2 separate regions of the Homo sapiens genome follow, and region 1 is linked to region 2. The links come from fine-mapping of genetic effects on gene expression. A gene starts in region 2. The other region holds a variant in brackets. All regions are shown on one strand. Distances are between the middles of the regions.

Region 1 (2,790 bases), 630 kb before region 2:
TGACTGGGACACAACCAGGGACCCAAAAGCACAACTGGGTTGAGTCATAACCCCCCTCCCTTCATCCTCTACGGACATGAGAGCCTCAACTAAGACATTCTCGAATTTACCACAGGAGTGTCTTCCTTTGCCCACTATTTGGAGCCATGTGGCCAATTTAGGATAGAAAAATATTACCCACTATTCAAGGCCTTCCTTAAATGCTGAGGAAGACATCACTGCAGACACAATTCCAACTTTAATTGTGAAATCTCCTGGCTTTTGTCACTTGAAGCCTCATTCTTAATCCCAGGCTTAGCTGAGAAATGAGAAGGATGTGTGCAAGTGGAGGAAAAAGAATCCTCAACCCTGAGTGAAAAGCATGCGCCGTGGAGGAGCGAGGAGAATGGACACTCTGAAGATGCTAGGGCTGGGAAACAGGGTGCTGGGGAAAACTGGCTCGCTGGCCTCAGAGCTGCGGCAGGTCCACCACTGCGCCGTGTTCTGCTGGAGGAACCTGGATGCCAGCTCAGTGGATCTTCTGCCCAGCGCAAAGGATCCCTGAAACCTGGAACAGGACAGGGGACACACCATAGACACGACATGGGCTCTGGAAGACCACTCACAAGGCCCGGCTCACAGGAAATGACCATTCATGGGAACCTGCACGCCGCAGTCATTCTCATGCTTAGATGCCACTTTCCAAGCAACAGCCTCTGAGAAAGCAGCTTCCCCCTTCTCAGTGTCCCAGTGAGGCACCACAGAAAGGAGAGGGCTGGCCCAGGGATGATCCTGGCCCCACCACCCTCTTCCAGGTGGAGTGAAGTGGAAGGAGACCTGTTTAAAAACTGCAGGGGGCACTTAAAATGGGCTGACTCTATTCATACCCAAGCTGGAGGTGAGCCAGGACACCGGGACTCACATGACTGATTTGTCAAGAGACTCCTCCCAGCACTTCCTTGAGTCATCCACAAGACAGAGCAGAATCCAAAGGCCAAGATGGAGGCGGGGGGCACCCAACATCCACACCACCCCCGGCCCCACCAGAGCCCCAGCGGAAACCAAGGATTTCCAGAATACACATGTGCTCACAAGTGTACACACGTGTTCACAAAAAGAAGAGAAGGGTTGTAGAATAGGAAGGTAATCTTATAAAGAAAAGCCTGTTTTTCAGGAAAACCTTCACCTTGTGGGGACCTTACCCTCTATGGAAAGCCAAGGTCAACCTGGGAGCTCCCGCATCACCTGCTCCGGGTACTCTTCCGGTGGAGCGGGGCTGGTCTCTGGATTTGAAGACACACCCAACTCTGTGCCATTCCCTGTCAGTTCTCTGATAGCCTCTTTGAAAAGAAGGCTGTTCCCTTTGTTCAGGAGTATTAATTCAAATTCCTTTCTAAGGCCCACACCACACGGATGCAGGGGAGCGACCCAAAGGAAGTTCACCCGGCAAAACCTAGTTTCTCCCTGGTTTTCACAGGAGTGGTGCAAACAGACTATCACAGTTAGGAGAAATCCTAAGCATCTTCCCTGTCTCTTGACCCCCAACTCCCCAACGTGGAACCCACAAACCAGATCCTATTTCAGGTGTGCACATGGCTCCAGTTGAATGCCAGAGGCAACCAGAGTTGGGGAGGGGTGCATCCCATGGACCCAAGCCCTCCCTCGAGGGAGATG[G/C]GGGGTGGAGGGCAACTGAGATCACACTATCCCAGACCACAAACATGGTCTTACCTATTGATGAAATGATACCTGGCCACTAAATCCAATTTTACCACATGAAACCCTAAGCACTGTGAAAGCTACACACATAACCCCAGGAGAGTGTGCCCATGCATTCTTGGAGTGTGGGGTGGTGCTGCATCAGAGACACACAGATGAGGGCAAGGGAGAAACAGCTTGGGAGGAAAGAAGGAGTCTAGTCTTGGTTAGTGTGGCAAAGCCATCCCCAGACATTCCCGTGTCCCAGTCAAAGGCCACAAGAAGCCTCGGTCAGCCACAGAGAAGCCAGAGCCAGGCGAAGTTGGTAGTAACTAGCCAGACTTAATTACCTAAGCTCCCTGGCCCTGACTCTTCATTGGTAAAACAGTGACTAACTATCACCTGTGCCTCTGCGAGGACAGCGCTGTGCTTGGCCAGGGCTGGAGAGCCGATCTCAAGGCAGGTGTCTGGCCTTTTCCCGGACATAGTGAGTCTGTGATCCAGAGTCTGACCCACGTATTCAACGGGGCCTGCCTCACTTCCTGCTCTAGGATGTTTTACATTCACTGCACTTTTGGAGTGAATATTCACAACAGCCTGGCTCCTGTTTGGAAGCCTGAGGCAGGCCCCGTTGAATACGTGGGTCAGACTCTGGATCACAGACTCACTATGTCCAGGAAAAGGCCAGACACCTGCCTTGAGATCGGCTCTCCAGCCCTGGCCAAGCACAGCGCTGTCCTCGCAGAGGCACAGGTGATAGTTAGTCACTGTTTTACCAATGAAGAGTCAGGGCAACGCAACAACACACAATGGCCCAGCGAGCTAGTGCCAGACACTAAGTAAGTGCTCAAGAAATGGTTGCTCTCTAGTTACTTGAATAACAGGTAGAGCGCACTTGAATGGCTGCATAAGTTTCTGGAGCACCAAATTAAGTCTGCAAAACATAGAGGCGAACACAGAAATTCCTCCATGGAGAAGACGAGGGCAAGACGAAACGGGCCAGATCGCACCGTCCTACCACTCTGCGCTCGGACAACCTCTAGTCACATGCCTCGCCAGGCTTCAGGTGTTGGGAGCCGCCGGGGTGAACAGCAGAGAACGCAGCAGAGGCGCGCA
Region 2 (2,790 bases):
TGGGAGAGAAAGGCACCCTAATCTGGGCCGCCTCGCTCGGGGCCCTCCCGGGCTGCCCTGCCCCAAAGTCTAGAGAGACAGAGACATGGGGATAGAGACAGAGACAGAGAGAAGCAGAGAGACAGACAGGGAGAAACAGATGGAGATAGCAATAGAAACAGGAAGACAGAGAGAGATAGAGATACAGAGAGAGCGGCAGTGAGAGACAGAGACAGGAGAGAGGTAGACAGGAGAGAAGGAGCGAGTCCTGGGCGCCTTCCTGAGTGCGGGCCCTGGATGGGCACCAGGCTGAGTCAGAGGCGCCCTAGGGCCGGAGGAGCAGGAGACCTGGGCAGCGGGGTGGGCGAGTGCCGGGAGGAGGTAAGAGGTCGCGGGGGAGGAAGACGCTCCCCCCGGCCTTGCGGGGCAGGTCGCGCAGGGCAGGTCGTGCGGGGCAGGTGGGGGGTGCCAAGGAAGTCCGGGCGTGGCCACACCGCAGAGAAAGCCATGGGAGGCACGTCCTGAGAGCTGGGAATTGGAACTGAGGGGCTTGGCAGTGGTTGGGTCTGAGGACCTGGGGGGCTTCCTCATGGCCGCACAGCGGGAGGGAGGTCAGCGGCCTCCACGCGGCTGCGGGCCTGGCCACAGGGCGGCTCTCCTGCTCCCTGCCCTGGCCTCTGGGGCACTGTGGGAGCTGGGGATTGGACTTGACCCTGAGCATCAGCTCCTGGCCTATGGTGACCAAAGGACCACGTGCCAGAGCAGGTGAAGGGGCCTCATGGGTCCACTCCCTGCCCGCCACCACGACTCTCTGGAGGAGGGGATCGCCTGCATTGGACCTCCTGGGTGCTTCACCACAGACTCCGGTGAAGTCCACGGATGCCACCCCAGACAGCTGTTAGGATCCTTACTATTGCGGTGTTGGGGAACCTTGCAGGGCTGTCCCCTTCTCTACATCCAGAGATTGGCATGGTGAGCAGCCACAGAATGCCTTCGGACAGTGCCTTGGCCACTACAGTATCACATGCTTGCCTTTGGAAAGGCACTTGGCATTTGAGTCTGTTGTCTGCGCACTGACATTTCTTTCTCACTAGGGCTGACCTGTGGGATTGTCGAATCAGGTTAAGCATCGATTCATGGTTGTTCCAATAGGAGCCACAGGAGCCACTCCTCCCTCTCAGCCCAGCCTGCCTGGCCCTTCTCTGCCTCTGCACAGCCGGCATCCTGGCCTGTGCCTGTGCGCGCGTGCGCATGTGCCTGTGTGCACGTGCACGGGCCTGGGGGTATTGCTGTTCTTCCAGCTTCCTCCTACCTGAGCAGCGTGGAGGTCGGCAATGGGCTTGGCCTGGCGCAGTGGGGACGGCTCCAGGTCCGAGCGGTCCCGGCTGTGGAAGAGACTCTCGGGCTGGGTGGGCCAGGGAGCAGCCAGCCAGCAGAGCAGCAGTGTCGGACGGAAGATGGAGGCGGCGAGCATTGGCCTGGTCTGAACCCTTGCCCTCCCTGCCTGGCTTCTTCCCCGTCCCCGTCACCTCTCCTTAAGGAGCAGGACCTAGGGTGGCTTTTATAAGCTACGCAGGAGGGAGCACCCAGGTTTCCAAGCATTTCTCACCCAGCCCTGAAGTGTGCCCGCTAGGAGGCCACGTGGCAGGCCCTGGGCGTGCTGCCTTTGAAGACCCCAGGCTCACCTTTCTTGTTGGTGTGAGAACTCCTTCTCTCAGCCTCCAGAGTTTGCCATGTCCTCCGATAATTACATCCTCCAGTTGCCAGTGCCTGTGGGTTCCATTTCTATGGAGATATACTGCGGGCAAGTTTGCCGCTAAATGAGCTGTGGAATTAACAGAGGCACGAGACTGCGCCCCTAACAACATGCCTCTCAGAGCTGAGCCTGAGTTTAAAAACCCTGACCGTTAGTTTGCTTACAGTTTGGGTCACTTTTTTTTTCTTGGTGAACTGGGGTTTGGAGATTTTTAGTTTGTTTCTCACACATTTTTTGTGTGGCTTTTCTTCTTTTTGTTTATCTTTATATAAAGGAGATCTTCTGAGCAGATAGTATAAATTGTAAAAGTACTGAGAATGAAGGAGACATTCTGTGATTCCGGTGGTGACATTTCAGTGAACATTCTTGCAGATACATATGCACAGATGCCTAGAGAAGTATTTGTGTGTGTCTCTCATTTTACATGAACTCTATTCTCTGTTCTTACAAGCCAGCACAACGTTACAGGCACTTTTCTGTTTCTGAATGTAAGTATTTATCGTTCTAGTTAATGACTGCACAGCGTCCCATTCTGTGGGTAAAGATTTTTATAGAAGGATAAACTAGAATCACCTCAGCCCACTACTTTTTCCCCTCATGGAGAAGCCTCAAGTTTCTTTGGGATCCTGAAGACAGAGCCCCTGAACTGGGCTTTTATCTGAGCAGATGTCCTCCTGAGAGTGCAGACTGACTGGGTCACAGCCGTCCATGGGAATATTGAGAATCATAGAAATACGGAGAGGCCAGGTGCAGTGGCTCAGACCCATAATCCCAGCGTTGCGGGAGGCTGAGGCAGGAGGACTGAGGCCAGGAGTTTGAGACAAGCAAGGGCAACAAAATGAGACCTCATTTCTATCAAAAAATGTTTAAAAATTAGCTTGGCATCGGCCGGGCGTGGTGGCTCACACCTATAATCCCAACACTTTAGGAAACCAAGGTGGGTGGATTGCTTGAATCCAGGAGTTCAAGACCAGCAAGAGTTCAAGACCAGCCTGGGCAACATGATGAAACCCCATCTCTACTAAAAATACAAAAATTAGCCAGGTGTAGTGGCA

Direction of the effects. Alleles are on the strand shown, and positions count from the first base shown. SD is a standard deviation of normalised expression in the study named.
As copies of C replace G in region 1, the expression in tibial artery of the gene that starts at base 1,453 in region 2 goes up (small effect, 0.27 SD a copy in GTEx).

Evidence for each region. PIP is the estimated chance that this variant, and not a neighbour inherited with it, causes the effect.
Region 1: its variant is the best candidate, but not a certain one, in a credible set for the expression of MMP21 in tibial artery (GTEx, PIP 0.51).

Annotation. Positions count from the first base shown.
Region 1 is chr10:125,148,570-125,151,359 of GRCh38, forward strand. The region is part of intron 1 of CTBP2 (C-terminal binding protein 2); the gene reads right to left. Among named protein-coding and RNA genes, the nearest start is that of CTBP2, 11 kb to the right of the region's middle. RefSeq lists an enhancer at 731-1,025. The variant G/C (reference allele first, on the strand shown) is at 1,654.
Region 2 is chr10:125,774,369-125,777,158 of GRCh38, forward strand. MMP21 (matrix metallopeptidase 21) reads right to left here and starts at 1,453. Exons shown (of 7, transcript NM_147191.1): 1 at 1,292-1,453. The coding sequence starts at 1,453.